Linked DNA regions of Homo sapiens: region 2 is linked to region 1. Evidence: fine-mapped expression QTL. Tissue or cell type: whole blood. Region 1 holds a variant in brackets; the other region holds the start of a gene. All regions are shown on one strand. Distances are between the middles of the regions.

Region 1 (12,079 bases):
CAAAAGACACAAACCTACAAATTCAATAACTTAAATGAATCTCAACTAAAATAAACCCAAAGAAATGCATGCCAAGACACATCATAGTCAAACTTCTGAAAAATAAAGACAAAGGAAAAAATCTCGAGGCCAGCAAGAGAGAAATGACACCTTACCTATAGAGGAAAATCACTAGATTTCTCATCAGAAACCATGCGGTCCAACATTTTTGGATTCTTGAAAGAAAGGATTCACAACCCATAATTTTATACCTAGCAAAAATATCCTTTAGAAGTGATGGGGCAATTAAGACATTCTCAAAGGAAAACAAATGAAAATAATTTATTGCCAACATACCTACCATAAAACAATGGCTATAGGAAGCTCTTGAAATAGAAAAAAATGATAAAAGAAGGAATCTTGGGACATTAGGAACCTAGAATAAGGGAAAGAGCAAAACTATGAGTGAATGCAATATAATTTTCTTTTCTTGAATTTCCTAAACTGTGTTCAAGGATTGAAGCAAAACTTATAACATCATTCACTATGGTTCTCAATGTATGTAGAAGAAATATTTAGGAAATAATATTTTAAATGGGAGGGTAAATGGACTCCAAGGGAAGTAAAGTTTCTATATTTCACTTTAACTGATAAAAGGTTGACACCAGTAGACCATAGGTTATGTATGTATATTGTAGTGCCTAGAGCATCCACAAAAAATCTACACAAAGAGGAACACTTGAATATACTATAGACAAATCAAAATGGAATCCTAAAAAAGTGTTCAAATGCTCCACAGGGATGCAGAGAAAAAAACAGAGAAACAAAATTAGAGGAGACACACAGGAAAAAAATGACAAACTTAACCTCTGAAATATCAATAATTACATTAAATGTAAATAGTCTTAATACACTAATGAAAAGACAGGTTGGTGGAGTAAATCTTAAAAATGACCCAACTAAATGCTATCTGGAAGCAACTGACTTCAAGTATAACTAGAAGAAAGTTTAAAGTAGAAAGATAGAAATATGAAGATGAAATAAAAACATTTTCAGACAGACTAAAACTAAGAAAATTCATCAATAGTAGGTAGACCTATGTAAAGAAAATACTAGAAAGTGTTCTGTTGGCATGAGGAAAATGACCCCAACAAAGGTCAGACTTGCAGCAAAAAAGAGGACTACAATGCAAATATGTGGGTAAATATAGGCAAAAATTATCACAATGAGATGCTACTTCACACCTGCCAGAATGGCTATCATCAAAAGGATAGACAATAACAAATGTTGGTAAGTCTCTTAGTCCATTTTTGCTCCTGTAACAGAATACCACAGACTGGGTAATTTGTAAAGAACAGAAATTTATTTCTCACAGTTCTGGAGGCTAGAAAGTCCAAGATCCAGGTGCCGGCAGGATTGATATCTGGTGAGGGCTACCGTCGGTTTCCAAAATGGCATCTTGTTGCAGCATCCTCCAGAGGAGAGGAACCCTGTGGCCTCACATGGCAGAAGAGACAGAAGGCAAGAGAGGGTGCTAATCCCAATCATGAGCATAGAACCCTTCTGTCTTAATCACCTCCCAAAGGCTGCACCTTTTAATTTACTGTTGCACTGGGCGTGAGTTTTGGAGAGGACACCATCATTCAAACCATAACATTCTGTCCTAGCCTCCAAAATTCATGTTATTTGCACAAACAAAATACATGTATTCCATCCCAACAGCCTCAAAGATTCTTAGCTCATTCTAGCATCAACTTTAATGTCTAAGTCCAAAGTCTCATGTAAATATCATCTAACTCAGATACAGATGGGACTCAAGGTACCATTCATCCGTAGGCAAATTCCTCTACAGCTGTGAGACTGAAATCAAACAAGTGATGTGCTTCCAAGATACAATGGTGGGAGAAGTATAGGATAGGTACTGCCATTCCAAAAGAGAGAAATAGGCAAGAAGAAAAGGGTAACAAGTTTCAAGTAAATCCAAAACCCAACAGGAAAACAACATTAAACCTTAGAGCTTGAGCTGGGTGCAGTGGTGTGTGCCTGCAGTCTCAGCTACTTGGAGAGGTTAAGGTGGGAGGAATGCTTGAATCTAGGAATCCAAGGCCACCCTGGGCAACACAGTGAGACCCTGTCTCTAAAAAAAAAAAAAAAATCACTTAAAGTTTTGAGAATAATCTTCTTTGACTCCATGTCCTGCCTTCTAGACACTTAGGTGGGAGTTGGTCCTTTAACGTTTCCAGGGATCCCTTCCCTAATGGCTTTGCTGGGTGGTCCACACAGCAGCTCTCATGGGTTGGAGTTTGGTGACTGCCCCTCTCCCAGGCTGGGATCATACTCCAATGGCTCCACAGTTCTGAGGTCTCGAGAACAGCCCCACTCCCGTGGCCCCACTGGACATTCCCCTGGTGCCCCTTTCTTCTGGCCTAGTAGGGGCTCTCCGTGGTGGCCCTGACTTCACTAGGCATTGCCCTAGTGGGGACTCTGCAGTGGTCCTGCCCCTGCAGCATTTCTCTGCCTGGGCCCCGAGGCTCTCTGAGATATCCTTTGAAATCTAGGTTGAGGTAGCCATGGATCCACAGCTCATACACTCTCTGTGCATGAGCTCTGCCTGCAAAGTTAGCACCAAGTGGATACTGCCAAGGCTTATTGCTTATGCCTTCTAGAGTGGCAGCCTGAGCCACATCTGGGTCCACTTGGGCTATGGCTGGGGTGGCCAAGGAGCACTGCACAAAAATGTAGGGAGCATTTTTGAGACTTGAGGCAGCAGTGGGCAGCGAGCTCTGACGTCCCGTGAGTATCCTGAAACCCTCCCTTTGAACTCTGCTACCCTCAAGAATGTGGCCCTCTGGGCCTGTGAGACTTGTAGCAGATCTCTGAAATCTTGAGGACGGAAGATCTCTGAAATGCCATCAATTGACTCTGAAATGGGCCATTTTTCCATTGCTTTGATGGATAGTATCTGCCTCCCTTCTATCCATGCTAATCTCTTTATCCAAGTGTAGCTTAGCCATACCCTTAATTTTCTCCCCTAAACATGCGGTTTCATCCTTCACATGGCCAGGCTGAGATTTTCCACATCTTTATGTTCTGCTTCCCTTTTGATAATGAATCCTGTCTTTAACTCGTTTCTCTTTTCTTGTATTTTATAAGCAGTTAAGAGAAGCCACGCAGCCATGCTTAGAGTTTTTCTTTGCCAAATATCCTAGTTCATCACTTTTGAATTCTGCTTTCACAGAGCAGCAGGGCACAGATAAAATTCAGACAACTTTTCTGCCACTTTGTAACAAAGATGGCCTTTCCTCCAGTTTCCAATAAGAAATTCCTCATTTCTGTCCAAGACCTTATCAGAATGGCCTTTCCTGTTCATGTTTCTACCAACATTCTGTGCTTGACCTACTCAGATAATCTCTACAGCTCTTTTCTGGGAAGACCCAGCCCTCACCAGAATTTCCCTTAATGAAATACAGGGTTTTTCCAGCACTCACTTCAAAACTGTTTCAGCCTCTATCCATTGCCCAGTTCTAAAGCCACATTCACATTTTCAGGTATGTATATATATATACATATATAGCAATACTCTACTCCTGGTACCCATTTCTGTCTTAGTCTGTTTGTGCTAGTACAACAGAATACCATAGACTGGGTAATTTATAAAGACCAGAAATTTATTTCTCACAGTTCTGGAGGCCAGAAGGTCCAAGATCAAGGTGTCAGCAGGATTGGTGTCTGGTGAGGGCTGCTCTCTGCTTCCAAAATGGCGTCTTGTTGTAGCATCCTTTAGTGGGGAGGAATACTGTGGCCTCCCACGGCAGAAGAGACAGAAGGCAAGAGAGCCCTCCCTCCAGCCTTGAGCCCTTTTACAAAGGTACCACTTCCACTCACCCCTCAAAGGCCACACCTCTTAACACTGCTGTATCATCGGGGATTTGGTTTCAACACGAATTTTGGAGGGACCCCATCATTAAAACTACAGCAATGAGGATGTAAAGAAATTAGAACCCTCGTACATTGCTGCTGGGAATGTGAAGTGACGCTGCCACTTTGAAAAACAGTCTGGTGGATCTGCAAATGGTTAAACATGGACTTAGTGTATGACCCGGTAATTCCACTTCTGGGTATATACCCAAGAGAATTGAAAGCATATGTCCACCTAAAAACTTCTACACAGATGTTTATAGCAGCATTATTCATAAAAGACAACAAATGGAAAAAACATAAACATCCATCAATAGTGAATAAACAAAAGGGGTTATATTTCTGCAGTGCAACATTATTCACCAATAAAAAGGAATGAAGTGCCGAAATATGCTATAATATGGGCGCTCTTGAAAACATTCTGCACAGTGAAGCCAGACACAAAAGACTGTGTGTTTTATTACCCCACTTATATGAAATGTTAAATTAGGCCCTTTACAGACACAGAAAGTGAATTGGTGTTTGCTAGGGGCAAGGAGGAGGGTGAGGAGAAGTTGGGAGGTGGGTCATGGGGAGTGGCTGCTAATGGGTACAAGGTGTCTTTTGGGGATGATAAAAATGCTCTAAATTTAACTATGGTAATGGTTGCAGAACTTTGCAAATAACTTAAAAACATTGAATTGTACACTTTAAACAGCGGAACTATATGGTATGCAAATTATATTTCGATAAAGTTGTTTAAAAAACCGAAATGAGAACAAACTGTATATACATTCTTATGGAGCTTAAAATATATGGAGTATATTATATTAAAATATATGGAACATATAGAAACACAAGAGCGTATAACTTGGAAAGGGGGTAATGGAATTAGACAGATCGTAGATCCTTGCATTTCCTGGGGAAGTGGAAAAGTAGCAATTAATATTTCATGCTAACAAGAAAAGGAAGGGTATTGAAATTTCTAGGTAAGCCGCAATAGAATTGTCAAACTAAGACAGGACAAAAATGGAATAATAAAATATATAATCAATCCCAAAGGGCAAGAACAGAGTGAAAAATAACATAGAAGAGGTTAGATAGATATACAAAGTAGGATTGAAAAAGGGAAATTTATCAGCAATTAGACTGAAACTACATGGGCAGTTTCTCCAGTTGAAAGACAAAGCTTGTCAGGATGGGTTTTCAAAACTCTACATGCTGTTTTCAGGAGATACATGTAAAACTTAAGAATGCGGAAAAGTGAAAAGTAAAAGGATGGAAAAACACATACCCTGCAAACACTAACCAGAACAAAGTCAGTCTAGCTTTACGTCTGGTAGGCAAAATAGCACGAAAGGAAAAGTCATTGGATAGCATAAGCCCTTTATAATGATAAAGGTTATGTTCATCAGAAAAATATAGCAATTGTATATTTGTATGTACCCAATAACAAAGCCTCAAGATAGCTAAAGAAAAATGACAGAACCACAAGGAGCAGCAGACAAATTCACAGTCTTAGTGCAAGGTCTCCGTAATTGGTATAATAAGCTGACACAAAATCAGTATGCATACGGAAGATTTGAAATACACCACCAACAGACTTGGCCTAATTGGCATATAGAGAAATTTGCATCCAACTGCAGAATGTACATTATTTTCAAGCACACACGAAAGATTATTTTAAAATTGACCTCATTTTTGGCCATAAAACAATCTTAATACACTTTAAAGGACTGAAATCATACATAAAAATCTGACACAAGATAGCAACTATGAATTAAGAAATACTCATCTAAGTAATTCACAGGTCAAGAAAAATCATCATGCAAATTAGAAAATGTTTTGAATGAAATGAAAATAAAAGCAAGGCACATCAAAACATATGGGAGGCAGCTAAGCAGCACTTAGAAAGTTACAGCCATAAATATTTACTTTAGAAAATAATCAAGGCTGGGAATCAATGGGCTAAGCAATCATCTTAAGGAGTTAAAAAAAATAATAATCAAACCAGGGCTAGGAACAGTGGCTTATGCCTGTATTCCCAGCACTTTGGGATCCCGAGGTGGGAGGATAGCTTGAGTTCAGGAATTTGAGACCAACCTGGGCAACACAGTGAGACCCCGTCTCTCCAAAATAATAATAAAAATAATAATTAGCTGGGCATGGTGGTGCACACCTGTACTCCCATCCGCTTAGGAGGATGAAGTGGGAGGATCACTTGAGCCTGGGAGATTGAGGCTGCTGTGAGCCATGGTCACGCTGTTGCACTCCAGCCCAGACAACATGATGCCTCAAAAATAAAACCAGGCCTGGTGCTGTGGCTCACACCTGTAATCCCAGCAGTTTGGGAGGCCGAGGTGGGCAGATGACGAGGTCAAGAGATCGAGACCATCCTGGCCAACATGGTGGAATCCCGTCTCTACTAAAAATACAAAAATTAGCTGGGCATGGTGGCACCTACCTGTAGTCCCAGCTACTCAGGAGGCTGAGGCAGGAGAATCGCTTGAACCCGGGAGGAGGAGGTTGCAGTGAGCTGAGATTGTGCCACTGCACTCCAGCCTGGTGACAGAGTGAGACTCCATCTCAAAAATAAAAAAATAAAAAATAATAATACAACCATAAAACCAGAAAAAT[A/G]GGCCAGGCGTGGTGGCTCACACCTGTAATCCCAGCACTTTGGGAGGCTGAGGCAGGCAGATGACAAGGTCAGGAGATTGAGACCATCCTGGCCAACATTGTGAAACCCCGACTCTACTAAAATACAAAAAATTAGCCAGGCATGGTGGCACACGCCTGTAGTCCCAGCTACTTGGGAGGCTGAGGCAGGGAAATTGCTTGAACCCGGGAGGCAGAGGTTGCAGTGAGCGGAGATCGCACCGTTGCACTCCGGCCTGGCTACAGAGCAAGACTCCGTCTCAAAAACAAACAAACAAACAAACAAACACCAAATAGAAAGGGGAAAATAATAAAGATGAGCTTAGAAATTAATGAAATAGAAAAAAGTAAGAGAAAATTAATGAAATCAGCAATTAATTCTTTGAAAACACTTAAGAGACAAGGAGTCACTTGTTTGAGTCTCTTTCCCTAGAGACTCTCAGCACAAATGATGATCTCATGCATGTATCTGTGATAGCCAGATAGAGTCAAGTGCTTAGGACAAGTATTCCAGGCCAGAGGAAGGTGGAGGGAGGTTTAACACTGGAAGAGAAGTCTGTGATGGAAGCAGAGCCTGGAGGGTTTATAATGGGTTCTGCAACCATCACCATAGTTAATTGGCATTTATAATACCAATTATAAATAATTGGTATTAATTCTTTCTTAAATGTTTGGAAGTGAAGCCATCTGGACCAAGGCTCGTCTTTGTGGGATTTTTTTTTAAATTACCAATTTAATCTCTTTATTTATTTGCTCAGATTTTCTATTTTTCCTTGAGTCAGTTTTGGTAGTTTGTGTCTTTCTAAGAAATTATCCATTTCATCTAAGTCATCTAATTTATTGGCATATGATTGTTCATAGTATTTAAATGGCATCTTTGAAGATAAGAGAAGTGGCTACGCACAAGCTAAGGAGTATAGGTGGCCTCTGGAAGCTGTGAAAAGCAAAGAAATGGGTGCATTTCTAGAGCCTCTGGAGGGAGCATGGCCCCGCTGACACCCTGATTCAGCCCAGTGTAACCCATTTTGGTCTTCTGGCCTCCAGATTGTAAAATAATAAATATGTGTTGTTTTAAGCCACCAAGTTGGTGATAAATGGTTGTAGCAGCTATAGGAAACTAAATAGAGGCTATCAGGAAAAACTGTAGCAATTTAATTGAAACTTTACATAAAATGGATAAACTTCTAGAAAAACACATGCTCCAAAATTGGCACAAGAAAAAGAAAATCTGGATAATCTTATAACCATTGACTTTTAACTAAAAACCTTCCCACAAAGAAAACTCCAAGTCCAGATGGCTTCACCAGAGAATCCTGCCCTGCAAATAACACTTCTAATACACAACCTCTTCTAGAGAAAGAAAAAAAGGGAAGATTACCTGATCCATTTTAGGAGGCCAATTTAATTTGATATGAAAAAGAGAAGAGGGTAGACAACACAAGAAAGAAAAATTACAGGCAACCTCACGCAAAACACAGATGCAAAAATTCTAAACAAAACATTAGAAAAGTGACCCACCTACAAGGTAGATTTAACATTGTAAACTCAAATGTTACTTGCCACATTAACAGTTGAAGGAGAAAAAGTAAATGTTCATTTCGATAGATGCAGAAAAAACATTTGACAAAGCCCAAACTCCATTTACGAAAAAAGAAACTCTTAGAAAACTAGAAATATAGGCTGAGCACAGTGGTTCACGCCTGTAATCCCAGCACTTTGGGAGGCCGAGACTTTGGGAGGCTGAGGCAAGTGGGTGACCTGAAGTCAGGAGTTAGAGACCAGCCTGGCCAACAGGCAAAACTCCGTCTGTATTAAAAATACAAAAATTAGCTGGGCTTGGGGGCGCGTGCTTATATTCCCAGCTAGTCAGGAGGCTGAGGCACGAGAATCGCTTGAACTGGAGAGGCAGAGGTTGCAGGGAGCCACGATCATGCCACTGCCCTCCAGTCTGGGTGACAGAGTGAGACCCTGTCTCAAAATGATAAAAAAATAAAGAAAAAGAAAAAAAAAGAAAAAATTTAATCTGATAAATGGTAGCTACAAAAACTATAGAAGACATGTATTTATTGGTAAAATGCTGAAAACCTTCCTTTTAAAATTGGCAGCTAGATAAAGATACCTGCTCCCCCACTTCTCTTCAGCATTGGACTGAAAATCAAGCCTTACTGTAAGGCAATACAAAGAAATGAGGTCATAAGGATTGGAAATGAGGAAACAGATTCATCATTATTTACAGAGAATTTGCTCATGCATGTAGCAAGTCTAGAGATTCTACAGGTACATTATTGGAATTCATTAGAGAGTCTAGTAAGTCAATATACAAAAGTGAGTTGTATTTTTGTATACTAGAAACAAACAGCAAATGGAAATTTAAAAGATGCCATTTAAATACTATGAACAATCATATGCCAGTAAATTCGATGACTTAGATGAAATGGATAATTTCTTAGAAAGACACAAACTACCAAAACTGACTCAAGGAGAAATAGAAAATCTGAACAGATAAATAAAGAGATTAAATTAGTAACTTTTTTTTTTTTTTTTAAAAGAAAACAACTTTCCACAAAGAAGAGCATTGGTCCAAATTGCTTCACTGCCAAACATTTAAGAAAGAATTAATATCAATTATTTATGAGTTATTCCAGAAAAATCAAAGAAGAGGGAAAACTTTCACAACTCATTCTATGAGGCTACTATTTTCCTGATGCCAAAACCAGACAAAGACATTACAAAACTACAGACTAATATCTTTTATGAATATAGATACAAAAAGTCTGCAATAAAATACTAGCAAATAGAATCCAACAAGGATTGTCCACCATGACCATTTGGAATTTATCCCTATAGGCAAGGTTGATTTAACACCCAGAAACAATTAGTATAATACACCATATCAGTACAGCAGTAAACCACATGACCATCTCAATAGATGCAGAAAAAGCATTTGACAGGCCTGGCGTGGTGGTTCACGTGTGTAATCGCAGCAATTTGGGAGGCCGAGGCGGGCGGATCATGAGGTCAGGAGATCGAGATCATCCTGGGTAACACGGTGAAACCCCATCTCTACCAAAAATACAAAAAATTAGCCGGGCGTGGTGGCGGGCGCCTGTAGTCCAGCTACTCGGGAGGCTGAGGCAGGAGAATGGCGTGAACCTGGGAGGCGGAGGTTGCAGTGAGCCGAGATCGTGCCACTGCACTCCAGCCTGGGTGACAGAGAGAGACTCCGTCTCAAAAAAAAAAAAAAAGCTTTTGACAAAATTCAACACTCTTTCATGATAAAAATACTCAGACTAGGATTAGAGTTCACCCTCACTGCTTCTGTTCAACATTGTACTGGGAGTTCTAGCCAGGACAGTTAGGCAATAAAAGAGGAATCTGCATTGGAAAGGAAAAGGTAAAATTATTTTTATTTGCAGATTACATAACCTTTTGTGCAGAAAATCCTAAGCAATTCACACACACGAAAAGTAGAACTAAGAAATGAGTTTAGAAAGTTTCAGAACACAAGATCAATATGCAAAAATATATTATATTTTTATACAATAGCAATGAGCAATCTGAAATGAAATTAAGAAAATTTACTTACAATAGCACTAAAAGGAACAAAATACTTACAGATACACTTAACAAAGAAGTAAAAAATATATATTCTGAAAGCTATAAAACATTGTTGAAAGAAATTAAAGAAAATCTAAATAAATGGAAACATATCCCATGTTCATGGATCAGAGTAATTAATATTGTTAATATAATTAATTTATATAATCACAATAATTTTTATTATTGTTTATATTTGCAATATTTATTATTAATAAATTAATAATTAATTTATATTAATAATTAATAATTAATTTAATTTATTATTTATATTTATATCTATATTTTTATATAATAATTTATATTGTTTTATACTCCCAAAATGATCTATAAATTCATTGTAATCACTGCCAAAATCCAGGCTTGCTTCTTTGCACAAATTGACAATCTGACCCAATAATTTATATAGACACTAAGGGATCCAGGATATGTAAAACACTCTTGGAAATAAAGAGCAGAGTTAGAGGATTCACACTTCCTTATTTCAAAATTTACTATAAAGCTACAGTACTCAAAGCAGTGTGGTATTGACATAAGAATAGACATATATATCAATGAAATAGAATTGAGAATCCAGAAATGAATCTTCACATTTATAGTCAATTGATTTTTGACAAAGATGTTAAGACCATTAAATGGGGAAAATAGTCTTTTCAACAAATGGTGCTAAGACACCTGACTATCTACATGCAAGGGAGTGAAGCTGGACCACTATTTCATGCCATATAAAAAATTAACTCAAAATGGGTCAGACCTAAGAGCTAAAACTATAAGTCTCTTAGAAGGAAATCTGGGGGTAAATCTTTGGTTTCTTAAATATTCAGGTAGAAGGCTGGACTCAACTCCAGAAGTGGGGCTTAGACTCTGGACCAGATTGAAGACTAGCTGAACCAAGGAAGAGGCAAAAGCACTCTTAAGTCTCCATAAGACACACCCACCAATGCCATGTCAGCTTACTATTGCCATGGCAAGACTGGAAGTTACTGCCCCTTTCTATGTCAATGATCCAGAAGTTACCATCCTTTTCCTAGAAATTTCTGCATAACCTGACCCTTAATTTGCATGTAATTAAAAGTGGGTATAACTATGACTGCAGAACTACACCTGAGCTGCTACTCTGGGCACATTGCCTATGGGGTGGTCCTGCTCCGCAGGGAGTAGTACCTCTGCTGCTGCCATACACTGCCACTTCAATAAGTGTTGATGTCTAACATCACTGGCTCACAGTTGAATTCTTTCTTAGGTGAAGTCAAGAACCCTCCCAGGCTAAGTCCCAATTTTAGAGCTTGCCTGCCCTGCATCACCAGCAGTTTGAGAGGCCAAGGTGGGAGGATCGCTTGAGGCTAGGTGTTCGAGACCAGCCTGGGCAACACAGAAAGACCGTACAGCTACCAAAAAAAAAAGTTATATATATAATATTTTTTAAAGAATAATGCTTCTATGTGGCCAGGCACAGTGACTCATGCCTGTAATCTCAGCACTTTGGGAGGCTGGGGTTGGCAGATTGCTTGAGCCTAGGAGTTCAAGACCAGCCTGGGCAACATGGTGAAACCCTGTCTCTACAAAAAATGCAATAATTAGCTAAGCATGGTGGTGTGTGCCTGTAGTCCAAGCTACTTGAGAGGCTGAGGAGGGAGAATCACTTGAGCCTGGGAGGTTGAGGCTGCAGTGAGCTGTGATCACGCCTCTGCACTCCAGCCTGGCTGATACAGCAAGACCTTGCCTCAAAAATAAAAGAATAATACTGCTAGGAACATTTGTGTACTAGTTTTTATGTGGACATGTTTTCACTGCTGTTAGGTGTATTCCTAGGAATGGAATTGCTGAGTCATATGGTAACTCTATGCTTAACCTTTTGAGGAACGATTAAATTGTCTTCCAAAGTGGCTGCACCATTTTACATTTTGCAGTGAATGAGGGTTCTAATTTCTCTACATCCTCACTAACACTT
Region 2 (12,079 bases), 27 kb before region 1:
TTAAAATTGTTTTGGCTATTGTAAGTCCATTGAATTCTCATATGAACTTCTGAATCAGCACACTAGTTGCTGCAGAAAGGCAGCTGGAAATTTGATAGGGATCACATTGAGTCTGTAGATAAATTTGAGGAGTGTTGCCAGTGTTTGGCTAGAGTAGAGTGATCACTGTCTAAGTTTCCTCTCTTGCTAGGCTGCCCCTGCCCCCCACTTTGTTTATTTGTTTGTTTGTTTTTGTCTAGAGAGAGCAGGCTTTTATGGAGGGGGTGCTTTTTTTTTGTCTGCACCCATTGGCATTTCGGGGTTGCCAGCTTCTTCAGCTCCAAGTCTGGGTTATATGATGCAAAAGAAAACTCGAGGAACTCACCACAGTGTTATTCCTTAGGTCCTGAGGTGCCTTCTCTCCACCTACTGCATCTTGTGGTTTTTTTTTTTCAAAGCTGTTTTTCGATACGTTTTCTGCAAAGAATAGGCATGAGTGCATCTACTCCATCTCACTGGAAATGGAAATCAACTACATTTTCTTTTAAAAGGTACTTTTTCACAGGTACCTGATCTTGGTACAATATGGCTTTTTCTCCACAATCTGTTCTTTTCACAAATATTATTCCTTCCTTGTTCTCACTGAGCATCCCAAATATACTTACTTTAAAGTCTGTTTTTTTCAGACTCTTCTATTATTTTAATTTCCTCTGGAGTTAATTCACCTTACAGTTATTGATTTTTCTTGACTATTATTCTTAGCATAAGATGTCTTCATGGGCTTCAGAATTTTGAATCTCAGACTCATTTTGTGTTGAAAGACTTTGTCTCTCTTTCTCTCTTGGTACTCCCTTCCCCCATCTAGCAGTTTGGGGTGGGTCCACTTGATGTCTGGTCTGTGGTAAAGAAATATATATATATACACACACATATATGCATATTATATATACACACACATACACATATACATACATATATACATATATGTGTATAATATATATGTGTATATATATTTTGTTGGTGGTTTGGAATCCTGACCCTCTTGGTCTACTTGTTAAACCAGGGGACAAGAGATTAAGATGACTATATCTGTGTTCTCCTTTGACCCAGGGCCACACTTTCACATAAACTGTCACACCCCACCCCCATGAAATGACTGAATCCAATTTTTCAGACTTTTTTTCTGACACAGGGGTGACTCCTCTCTCCTCCATCCCCTGGATTCAAATAGGAAGCCTGGCTGTGTTCCCAGCCTTGGGTCCCTATTATGTCTCAGGTCCAGAGCCCGGCAGGCCCACGTCAATACTCAGAAGTTTGTGTTTCTGGACCATTGTGAAGTTTATCTTGTTTATCGATTGGAGCCCACTTATATCCTTTCAATATTTTCTTTGCATATTTTATTGTTCTGTGTTCACAGCCCAGACAGGCACCTCAGGGCATGAATCATAGCTTCATCTGGATGAGAAGCCAAATATTCTTCTCCTGTTTTTACTTTTAAAAGTCCATTAATTTTTATTTTGCTCTATTTTATGGGCTGCCATCTAATTTCCCCTTGGAAGTAAAGTGAAATACAGATAAATTATTTATTTCTTTAAATGTTTTATCATTTCTGAAATTGGGGTGCATCTTATATTCAATGCACCTGGGAATTTAAGATTCATGGTGTCAACCACACTTAGAATTGCAGCAGACACTTCACTAATGTGCCCAGTATCCAGGGGCCTAGACAGACAGAGAGACAGAGAGACAGATGGAGTGACTCCCACGAGTGGATGGGATTCCTCTGTGTGTTTAGAAGAACCTGGAGGGGTAGAAGGCTGCAGGCTCATTTCTGCTTTTGAAGTCATTGACCTCAGTCAAGGTTAACACAGCTCCTGCCCCCATCTGATTTAGAAGGTCTCATGGAAGAAGTTTAAGGACACACAGTCTTCTTTATTTCCCTCTTGCTTCATGCTCTAGAAGTTTTCACCTGGTCACAAAGGGTGCACACTTTGGCACACTGGGGTACAAGTATCCTTTCCAAGTTCTGACACTGTAGTTGTGGGACCAGCCCAAACTGGGCCTACCCTGTTGGTAACAAAATGTCAAGCTGCCTTTTAGGTAGAACAGAGCCCAAAACTGCAAGTCATGTAGCCTGGGCATGTGCCGTAGAAAAAACTTTGACCTCCAACAACACCCAGAACCAATGATTCGTCCTCTTAGAACCAAGAAGACTGGGACATGACCAGAAGTTGAAAACCAGAACTCATTCACAAGCAAAGGGGTCCATCAGCCTGGAAGGTCTGGGGCTAAAATCTACTTTAATATACATTACCACATATGGTCAAATTTGAAGCCCTCCAATCAGACCCTGGCAAGCCAGCATTGATAAATACTTTCTCTTGCCACCTGATCCCTTAAAACTTGCCCCATACCTCAAATCAGGGAGACGGATTTGAGCCCACCTCCTCTCTCCTTGCTGGTCAGTTTTGCAATAAAGCTTTTCTTTTCTCAAAAGCTGGTGCCATATGTATCGGCTTCCGTGTGCATCAGGCAGCAAGACCACTTGCTCAGTAACAACATCCTTATGCCCTAATTCCCTTGAGTGAAAACTGCAGGTCTGAGTGAATCCAGCTCTGTCCCAGGCCTGCCTAAAGAGTGCAGATGGTTCCCAGCTTCAGCCTCCTTGAATACTGTGTCCTCAAAAGACTGGCATACTGGGTATTGTTAACTGAAGAATGACGAGGTTCATAAACCTGGAAAGGAGAGTTTTATTTATCATAAAAGGTTGCACCCTGCAGAGTGGCCATTTGAATAGGCTGGGAAGTGTAGCCTCTGGCCAGAAGCCATAAACAGGCACTTCAAGGGTTGGAAGAGTAAGACAGGAATTTATGTTGATCAGGGTGGCCAAATATACATATTCAATAAGCTACAGGAGGAGTTATAAATATTTATGAGAAGAGAAATATGCACATGTGCAACTGAGCTTCATCCCCCTTCATGGGTAGCACCTACAAAAAATGGCAGTGTTAGCGTGATCTGAAGGTGGAGTTTTCAGCCCTCTAATGTCAAAAGGTGTATCAGAGGACACAAAAGCTTTCACTGCACATCCTCCACAGGCTGGCCAGAACCACTCCAGGGTTGGTGGTCTCTTACTAGGAAAGAATGCTGGTCAGTTGTTGTGTGCCACAAAAAGGGAGGGGCAGTGTCAGATGGTTGGTTGGTATCAATGTTGAAGTCTTTCAAAGAGGCTTGTTTCTGTTTAACTCTTAAGGAAAAAAGCCTAATGGTGGTTATCGGTTATGGAGCGGGGGCAGATAATGAAGTGTGTCCAACCTCCCATCCCATCATGGCCAGGAACTCGGCTTCCCAGGTTTCTCTGGGGTCCCCTGGCCAAGAGGGGGTCTGTTCAGTTGGTTGGGGGGGGGGGGCTTAAATTTTTATTTTTATTTCTCAGTATCTTTTCTCTCCAGCCATGCCAGCTTGAAACTGACCATGCAGAAGGATCACCTAGGTCAAGCTGGGAATCCAGACCCGGAATCAAACAGTTCTTACCCTTTGGCCAGTGTATTAGTCTGTTTTCACGCTGCTGATAAAGACATACCTGAGACTGGGCAATTTACAAAAGAAAGAGGTTTATTGGACTTACAGTTCTGTGTGGTGGGGAGGCTCACAATGACGGCAGAAGGTGAAAGGCACGGAGGAGCAAGTCAGGTCTTACATGGATGGCGGCAGGCAAAGAGAGAACTTGTGCAGGGAAACTTCCCTTTTTTTTTTTTTTAATTTTTTTTTGAGATGGACTTTTGCTCTGTTGCCCAGGCTGGAGTACAGTGGTGCAATGTCTGCTCACTGCAAGCTCCGCCTCCTGGGTTCACGCCATTCTCCTGGCTCAGCCTCCCAAGTAGCTGGGACTACAGGCGCCCACCACCACGCCTGGCTAATTTTTTGTATTTTTAGTAGAGACGGGGTTTCACCATGTTAGCCAGGATGGTCTCGATCTCCTGACCTCGTGATCCACCCGCCTTGGCCTCCCAAAGTGCTGGGAGTACAGACGTGAGCCATTGTGCCCGGCCGGAAACTTCCCTTTTTAAAACCATCAGATCTCTTGAGACTCACTCACTATCACAAGAAGAGTGCAGAAAAGACCTGCCCACATAATTCGATCACCTTCCACCAGGTTCCTCCCACGATGTGGGAATTGTGGGAGTTACGACTCAAGATGAGATTTGGGTGGAGACACAGCCAAACCATATCAGCCAGGTATCTTCACTCCTTGGTATTTACTCTGGGGAACCCAGCAGAGAAAAGGGTGGGGATTTATATACAAGTGTAGTTTATAAAACTTTAGCATGGTAAACAAGATAAGGATCTATCAAAAAGGGCATGGCTAAATACTTTGCGGTACAGGAGTTCCATGGACCACAGGCAATAACTGAAAATCATGCTTCTGAACTATCTTTAATAGGAAAATGCTCAAAATTCAATGTGCTGTTATGGTTACAAAATATTCATAAGGTAAAAAATATTTTGTAGAACATATCATAGAAAAATGACTGGATGGAAGTACAGAAATATTACTATCTCTACGTTACATATATATGTATTACTATTTGCTATCTTTAGGTGGAGGGAGTCTGAGTAGTATAAAGTTTTTTTTACTTCTCTTACATCAAGATTTGTTACATTAAATTTATATTCAAATCACAATAAGGGCCTGATGCAGTGGCTCACGCCTGTAATCCCAGAACTTTGGGAGGCCAAGGCAGGCGGATGCCCTGAGGTCAGGAGTTGGAGACTGGCCAGGCCAACAAGGTGAAACCCCGTCTCTACTAAAAATACAAAAATTAGCCGGGCATGGTAGCACGCGCCTGTAATCCCAGTTACTTGGGTGGCTGAGGCAGAAGAATCGCTTGAACCCGGGAGGCGGAGGTTGCAGTGACTCAGGATCGCGCCACTGCACTCCAGCCTAGGCGACAGAGCGAGACTCCGTCTCAAAAAAAAAAAAAAATAAGAAGAACAGTAAATCATCAAAAAAATAAACCCAATGACAACCACAGAAAGAGCCTTGCAAGCCCTCTTGGGAGGAATGACTGGGAGAACACCAGGTACCCGCCCTGATGAAGACGCCGCAGCAACTACAGTCTTCCCCGATTGGCAGCAGCCCGAGTTGGGGGGTGGGGGGGGGTGGGACTTTGTGCATCACTTCCGGGGGCGGGGCAGCGGTCGTCTCCGCACGCGCGGGAGCGGTCGGTATCCATGGCAACCAGCGGGGCCAGCCTAAGGCCCGCCCGCCACCGCCACCGCGCCGGCCCCGCCCGCACAAAGGCCGCGCGGTGACCCGCCCTCTGCCGCGACCCCGGCCCCGCCCCTGCCCCGGCCCCGGCCTGGCCCGGTCCCTGCACCTGCCGGAGGCCGCCCGCCGCCATCGCCAGCGCCGTCGCTTGGCTGCGCTGACCGGGAAGCAGTTCTCGGCGGTCCGCGCGGTGATTCATCGGCCTGGCCGCGTCCCCCGCGCGGGCCATCTTGGTCACGGCCGGCGGCGGACAGAGCCGCGGAGGAACCGCGAGACCCCAGGTACGCGTGCCCCCGGCCCCCTGCCCGGCCGGGCCCCGCCACTGTGGTGGCCCCCAGGCCCGCGGCCGCCAAGGAGCAGCCCCCTTTGTTCTCCCCCGGGCGGGCGCGGGGCGGGCGCCGCGGGGCTTTGTGCAGCCTCGCCACCCACGCGCGGGCCCTCCACGCCGCCCCTCACCCTCCTGCCCGCTAGTCGCAACTGAAACCTTGAAAACATCTTTTCTTAATCCTCCAGGGCCCAGAGCAGGTCCAGCCACCCGTCTGGCTCCGTAGTCCGCGAAGTCTGCAGTAAAGGAGCCGCGTGGGACCGGGGCCGAAGTCCCTAGGGCCTGGCACCGCGTGCCCCTCTCTCGGGCCCTCGGCTTGGGGGTCTCGCAGCGCCCTGCCGTCGTGCACCCCACACTGCCCCCATTTCTACAGGGGCCCACCTGGTCACCACACCCTCTTGGTCCACCCGCGGATCTCAGCGTGTGGCTGACCTCTGGCCAGCATGGTGCAGCCGCAGACGTCCAAAGCTGAAAGCCCAGCCTTGGCAGCGTCTCCGAATGCCCAGATGGATGACGTTATTGACACCCTGACCTCCCTGCGCCTCACCAACTCGGCGCTGAGGCGGGAGGCTTCCACCCTGCGGGCGGAGAAGGCCAATCTCACCAACATGCTGGAGAGCGTGATGGCAGAGCTGACCTTGTTACGCACCAGGGCGCGGATCCCGGGGGCTCTGCAGATCACCCCGCCCATCTCCTCAATTACTTCAAACGGGACTCGACCCATGACCACACCTCCAACCTCTCTGCCCGAGCCCTTTTCCGGGGACCCAGGCCGGTTGGCGGGGTTCCTGATGCAGATGGACAGATTCATGATCTTCCAGGCCTCCCGCTTCCCGGGTGAGGCCGAGCGTGTGGCCTTCCTTGTGTCTCGACTGACTGGGGAGGCGGAGAAGTGGGCTATCCCCCACATGCAACCTGACAGCCCCTTGCGCAACAACTATCAGGGGTTCCTGGCAGAGTTGCGGAGAACCTACAAGTCTCCGCTCCGGCATGCGCGGCGCGCCCAAATCAGGAAGACTTCTGCCTCTAATAGGGCTGTGCGAGAGAGGCAGATGCTCTGCCGCCAGCTGGCCTCTGCGGGCACGGGGCCTTGCCCAGTGCATCCAGCTTCCAACGGGACTAGTCCAGCGCCAGCCCTGCCTGCCCGAGCACGGAATCTTTAAGAATCCGCCAGCACTTGGTAGCGTCTGCAGCCACCCAGGTAGCATACGCTCTTTGCTGTGTAGAAGAAATGCCCATACGACAGCTTTGCCCCTGTTTGAAGACCTCCCTTCTTGCCTCTCCAGACGTGTTCCCCGAGGAGATCTTCCTTCCGTCCTTCCTGGCGCCCTGGTTGCCCACCTTGCCGTGCTTCCTCTTACGTGCTAGCTTTGTACCTATCGCTCACTGCATGCTCGCCTCCCTCTTGCTGGCATCCCGGCCTGTTTCAATGACTACCGCTCTGCTACTTAGGCACAGGGACTCCGCCGCACGCTGACGGACCACGAGGGCTGACCCCTTCCAGCCTGACTTGGTTCATGGAGGCTCCTACTCTGCCCTCTCCAAGCTCCCCTGGCGGCTCCCCACCTGGTTGCCCAGTTCCTATTGATGAGCTCTGGACAGAAAGATGCCCGTTTGGCCAGGCTGGTGGCTTGATGGGTGTACCTGGAGAGGGGGTCTGGCTTCCTGCCCAAGATGCCTCCCAGCCCTGCCAGGGCCCGGTGCAGCGGGCAGGGCCTCATCTGTGCTGTAGTGGTCGAGTGGTTGCTGCAAGGAGCGTAGTTCTGCCATGTCTGGGGGCCAGGTTCCACTCTGCACATGAATATGCAGTCTGGGAGGCCCCACTGCTCTCACTGGGAAGGACCAATGTTGCACCTCTGTTAATGCCTGACTTCAGCTGCTGGTGTTCTGATGGAGCCAGAGGCTTGGGGAATCTGGAACTTGCCTGCTAAATAAGGTCGTGGTGGACTCTCAGCCATTGGGCAGGTCTATCAGGCTGCAGGTTCCTACACACCCACGCCTGAGGGTCATAGCAGGCTAAGGGTGGATACCAGCGACTCCCTTTGCTGCCCAGGATCTCCATGGGCAGTGCCACAGCGGCTGATGCTCAGTCACTCCTGCTTCTACCCCCTGTCACTGATGGCGAGCCTTGCCCAGCTTGAGACCTGTTCCCATCTCTATTCAGGTGCCATGTGGCCTTCACTGCAGCCCTGCAGCCACCCACGCACCATCTGTGGGTCTCCAAAGGCACCTTGTAGCATGTACTCCCCGTGCCTGGGCAATCAGATGGGCTGCCTTTGTCCAAGGGAAAACAGACTCCCTTCGGGAAACATCCTTAAGCACTTAAGGCCGGGGGGGGTGTCTGCCTCTGGCAACCCAGCCAGGGTCTTGGTGGCATTTGTAAAAGCAAAGAGCTGTGGACTGCCGTGGTCCTAGTGTGGTGACAATGCAGCACTGGCATGCATGTCCTCCTTCTGAAGGACCTCATCCTTCCTCACAGGGGGATGACCAAGAAATCATTTTGTGGCTGAGTTTGGCCACGCCCTTTGGACTGTGCTGTTCCGCCATATTTCAATGCCAAATGAACCACATTGACATGACCTGGACCATAGGGCTTCCTATCCTGGGCTCAGCTGCCCCTGTCTGAAGGGTCTTGGCTTGATTGCAGAAGGACAACCTCCGCACCCACCTAAAGACATGTATATGTCTTGGGATCCCAGAGATTGGGTCCTTGGGCCTGGCTTCTTAAGAGTTTTGATGATGCTGGGAAAAGTGACTGCGATTCTGAAGAACCGCTGCCTTGCAAGGTCAAGGACATTCAGTGGTTGCTGGGGTCCGCAGACTACTGCCACCCACTCACCATCAACTCTGTTAGCCCAATTGCCCTGCTGAACAACTGCCTGAATACAGGCTTTAGGTTCCCCTGGACTCCAGCCAAGGCTGTTCAGGTGGGACCATGGTGCTCTTTAAGCGTGATCGGAGGGAAGACACACAGCAGGGCCACCATTCCATGAATGGGAGGTGTACAGATCACTTTCTCTTTGTGCTCAGTTCTGTTCTGTCTCCAGCAGCTATATTGGTAAGACTAGTACCTGCCAGGGAGAGGTGCCCCCAAGTGAAGGGGTACAGTGGCACCTGGGAAAAGGCACCTGGAAGGTTTCCATGTGGCCCAGCCCAGCATGGAAGCAGGGTGGGAACTCTGCTGTGTCGCCAGCGCTCACTCTACTCGAGTGGCTTTTTGAAAGCCCTACCATGTCTGTGTCAGGCCTGTGCTGCTTCACATCCTACAGCTGCCTAGGAAAGGCCGGCCACGCTCCCTGTCCACACACTCCCTGTCCACACACTCCCTGTCCACACACTCCCTGTCCACAACTGCAGCCGGGCCCTCTGCCTATGGGCACCCAATCCAAGCAGCTGCTCCACCTTTGTTTGGCATGGTGATTTGTGTTTTTTCTCTTGGTGCTTATGTGTGTGGGCTTGGGACGAGTGCTGGTATGCACTTAGGACCTTCTTGATAGCTCCCTGCACTTTGGAACACGGAGCAGATGAGAGAGGGTCGGGGCTTGCCCTCCACCTTGGACTTGGAAGAAGCCCACATTGGAGAGGTGAGGACCCCATGGTGGCTCTAGTGGAAGATACGTTAGTCTCCAGCTAAGGAGGATGAGGCGCAGCCCCAGAGGGAGACCTCAGTGATAGGGGATCAGGCTAAGAAAGTGGGGGAAGGGAGATGCTTTGTACATATTTTGGGGTTATAATTTCTCTAAATTTTAGGAGAACGGGTATTGATTGATAAAAGGGACAGGCAGTAGTGTTCAACAGTGCATGTGAAGGAAAGTTCTGTTTTCCATGGTTTTGACATTCTTTGGACTGTATTGTGACTGCTGTCTGGTCCACATGGTACCCCTTTGGTAAGTAGGCTTCAGTGCATACCAGGGTATCACTGGAGATGGGAGTTAGTGAAGGGGTGACTCCCTGGCCTAGTATAGTGTGACCCTGGGACTAACTTAATGTCCTAAAGCATTTTGGTGACTTCTAGGGAATAGCAAAGACCTATTTCATTGTCCCCAGGTAAGTATGTGATGAGCAATGAGGAGGAGTGGAAAACAAAACCCAGAAAGTGCGGCAGGACCAGCCTGACGCACACGCTCCTGTTGTCATGGCAGACAGCCGCCTTGGGTGGGCACCACCCTGGCAGTTCCAGCCTGTAGGGGAGTGAAGGGACATGGCTGAGCTGGGCATGTGCTGAGGTTGACTTAGGGAACAAGCCCTGGGATTGGACAAAAGGGCCCATGCTGCAGCCACTGACTGGGGGCAGAGCTCTGGGTGGAAGAGGGAAGAGATCCTAATGGAGGCGCCTCCATCTGCAACCACAGTTGTAAGGCTCATGGCACCTCTGCTTGGAAAGCACTGGTTTAGGGACTTAGAGAGGTAGGCACAAGGTGGGTCTCCTGGGTAAGGGAAGCAAGAGCAGACTGTTGGGCCAACAGGAGAAGCTCCCCAGAGTAGGGGAGAAGGTTGGGGTGTAGGGCCTTCCACGTGGAACAGACAGCCCCTGTGTCTCTGTCTCTTGGGGACCTGAGTTTGGGTGGGGTGGCAGTTGGCACAGCGCAGATGCGGTAGAGATGGGAGGAAACCCAGCTCCTCACTTCCGTGTGCCTCATGCCTTTGCATACACAAGCACCAAACCTACTAGGTCTTCTCATTACCCATGTAAACCACATGTTAGATAAATTTTTGCAAGTAGAGGAAAGAAGGAAATAAAACATCACATTTTGGTGTCTCTCAGGCTTTCCCCCCCAACTATGGTTTCTTTGCTTTTTGTTTTAACATAGTTTTGTTGCTGTCTTCTGTAATGATACAGTTTTGTGCAGCTGTTTTCACTTAGCATATCGTGGGCATCTCCCCTTATGATTACTAAATATTTTATTTTGGAGTGGCTGTGTACTCTCCCATTGACTAGATGGACCATTGTGCCAGTTGCCAATCACTAATGCTGTTACTAACTTTTCAGTTATAAATTGATGAATATCTTTGTGCACAGGCTGTTTCCCAATGTCAAGTTATTAGGGTAGACTCCAGGAGGTGGGATTCTTCAACTAAAGAATATGAAAACCTTTGAGGCTTTTACTACATATTGACAAAATGGTTTCCGGAAATATTTGTATCCCCTTACACTGCCACCAGCAAGGATAAACATGTCCATCTTGCCCGTATTGGGAATTATCATCTGGCTAAATATTTGCTAATTTGATAATGAAAAAATAGCATCGTGTTTCAGTTGGCATTTCACTGACTTCTAGCACGGTTGAACATCTTTCATGTGGAGCGATTGTATTTCCTCCTTTGTGGATTGTCAGTGTCCTTTGCTCTATCTTCTGGGGTCAGATAAATTTGTATGAGCTCGGTATATATTAAAGATATTAACCTGGTGTGTGTCATATTTGCTACAGCTGTTTCTGGGTTTTTGTGTGTTTTATCTTATTGGAATTTTGACATACATAGTCGATCTGTCTCCACAGCACTGTGTCTGCTAGACAAGAACACAAGGCAGGCAGGTGGATTTTGTCTGTTTTGTTCATGGCCGTAGCACTAGCACCTATGACAATGCCTGGCACGTGATAGGTACTCAGTACACTTCTGTTGAATTAGTTACTCCAGTGGATCTGCAACGCCTTGGGATCCACGGCACGTGATAAGCACTCAGTACACGTTTGTTGAGTTAGTTACTCTGATGGATCTGCAACACATTGGGATCCACACATGGATCCAGCAGTCCGCGCTCCAGCTCACAGGCCGAGGCTCTCACACTCCAGAGCTCGCAGGCCGAGGCTCTCACACTCCAGAGCTCGCAGGCCGAGGCTCTCACACATTTTGTCTCAGGGTCCCCTTGCACTATAAGAACTCATTGAGGGCCTCAAACAGCTTTTGCTTATATAGGTTTTCTCTATCAATATTTACCATATTATACATTTAAACAGAATTTTAAAATAATTATTTGGAAAATAAAAACACTGTTAAACAACATTTTAAATAAAAAAAACTATATTTTCCAAAACAAAACGCTTGTGAGGAGAGGCATTGACGAAGACATTTTTGCAAATGCCTGTAATGTCTGGCTGAATGGAAGACAGTGGGAGCCTCCTACCTGCTGTGCTTAACCTGCAAGAGCACATGCCATGGTGCCTCTGAAAGCCCCACTGCGCCCATGAGATGACGCGGAAAAGGCACATGATATTTTGGGATTATTATGAAAACAATTTTGTGGACCCCCGAAAGCGTCTTGCCCCTCTTTGAGAACTGCTGGCCTAAAGAGAGACAAGGATTGGCAGTTTGGAGAACATCACCAACTGTTCCATCGCTTTAAACTTCAGGTCTTTCTTCCCCCTCTAGATTAATACACAGTTATTTCTGGGATTAATTTGGCATGTAATGTGAGAGGAGGCTCTAAATAGACTGTCTTTCAAAGATTTAAATACCCTGAGTCCAGTTATTAATAAGTATTTCTCTCCCTTGGTCACGTGTGT

Evidence for each region.
Region 2: RTL6 starts here. The variant in region 1 is fine-mapped to the expression of RTL6 in whole blood (TOPMed, PIP above 0.99).

Annotation. Positions count from the first base shown.
Region 1 is chr22:44,464,073-44,476,151 of GRCh38, reverse strand. No RefSeq gene overlaps it. Among named protein-coding and RNA genes, the nearest start is that of LINC01656, 27 kb to the right of the region's middle. The variant A/G (reference allele first, on the strand shown) is at 6,514.
Region 2 is chr22:44,491,497-44,503,575 of GRCh38, reverse strand. It overlaps RTL6 (retrotransposon Gag like 6), which reads left to right and starts at 5,343. Exons shown (of 2, transcript NM_032287.3): 1 at 5,343-5,532; 2 at 5,765-10,993. The coding sequence starts at 6,020. The coding sequence ends at 6,739. RefSeq lists silencers at 5,133-5,192, 5,283-5,412 and enhancers at 6,672-7,449, 7,450-8,227.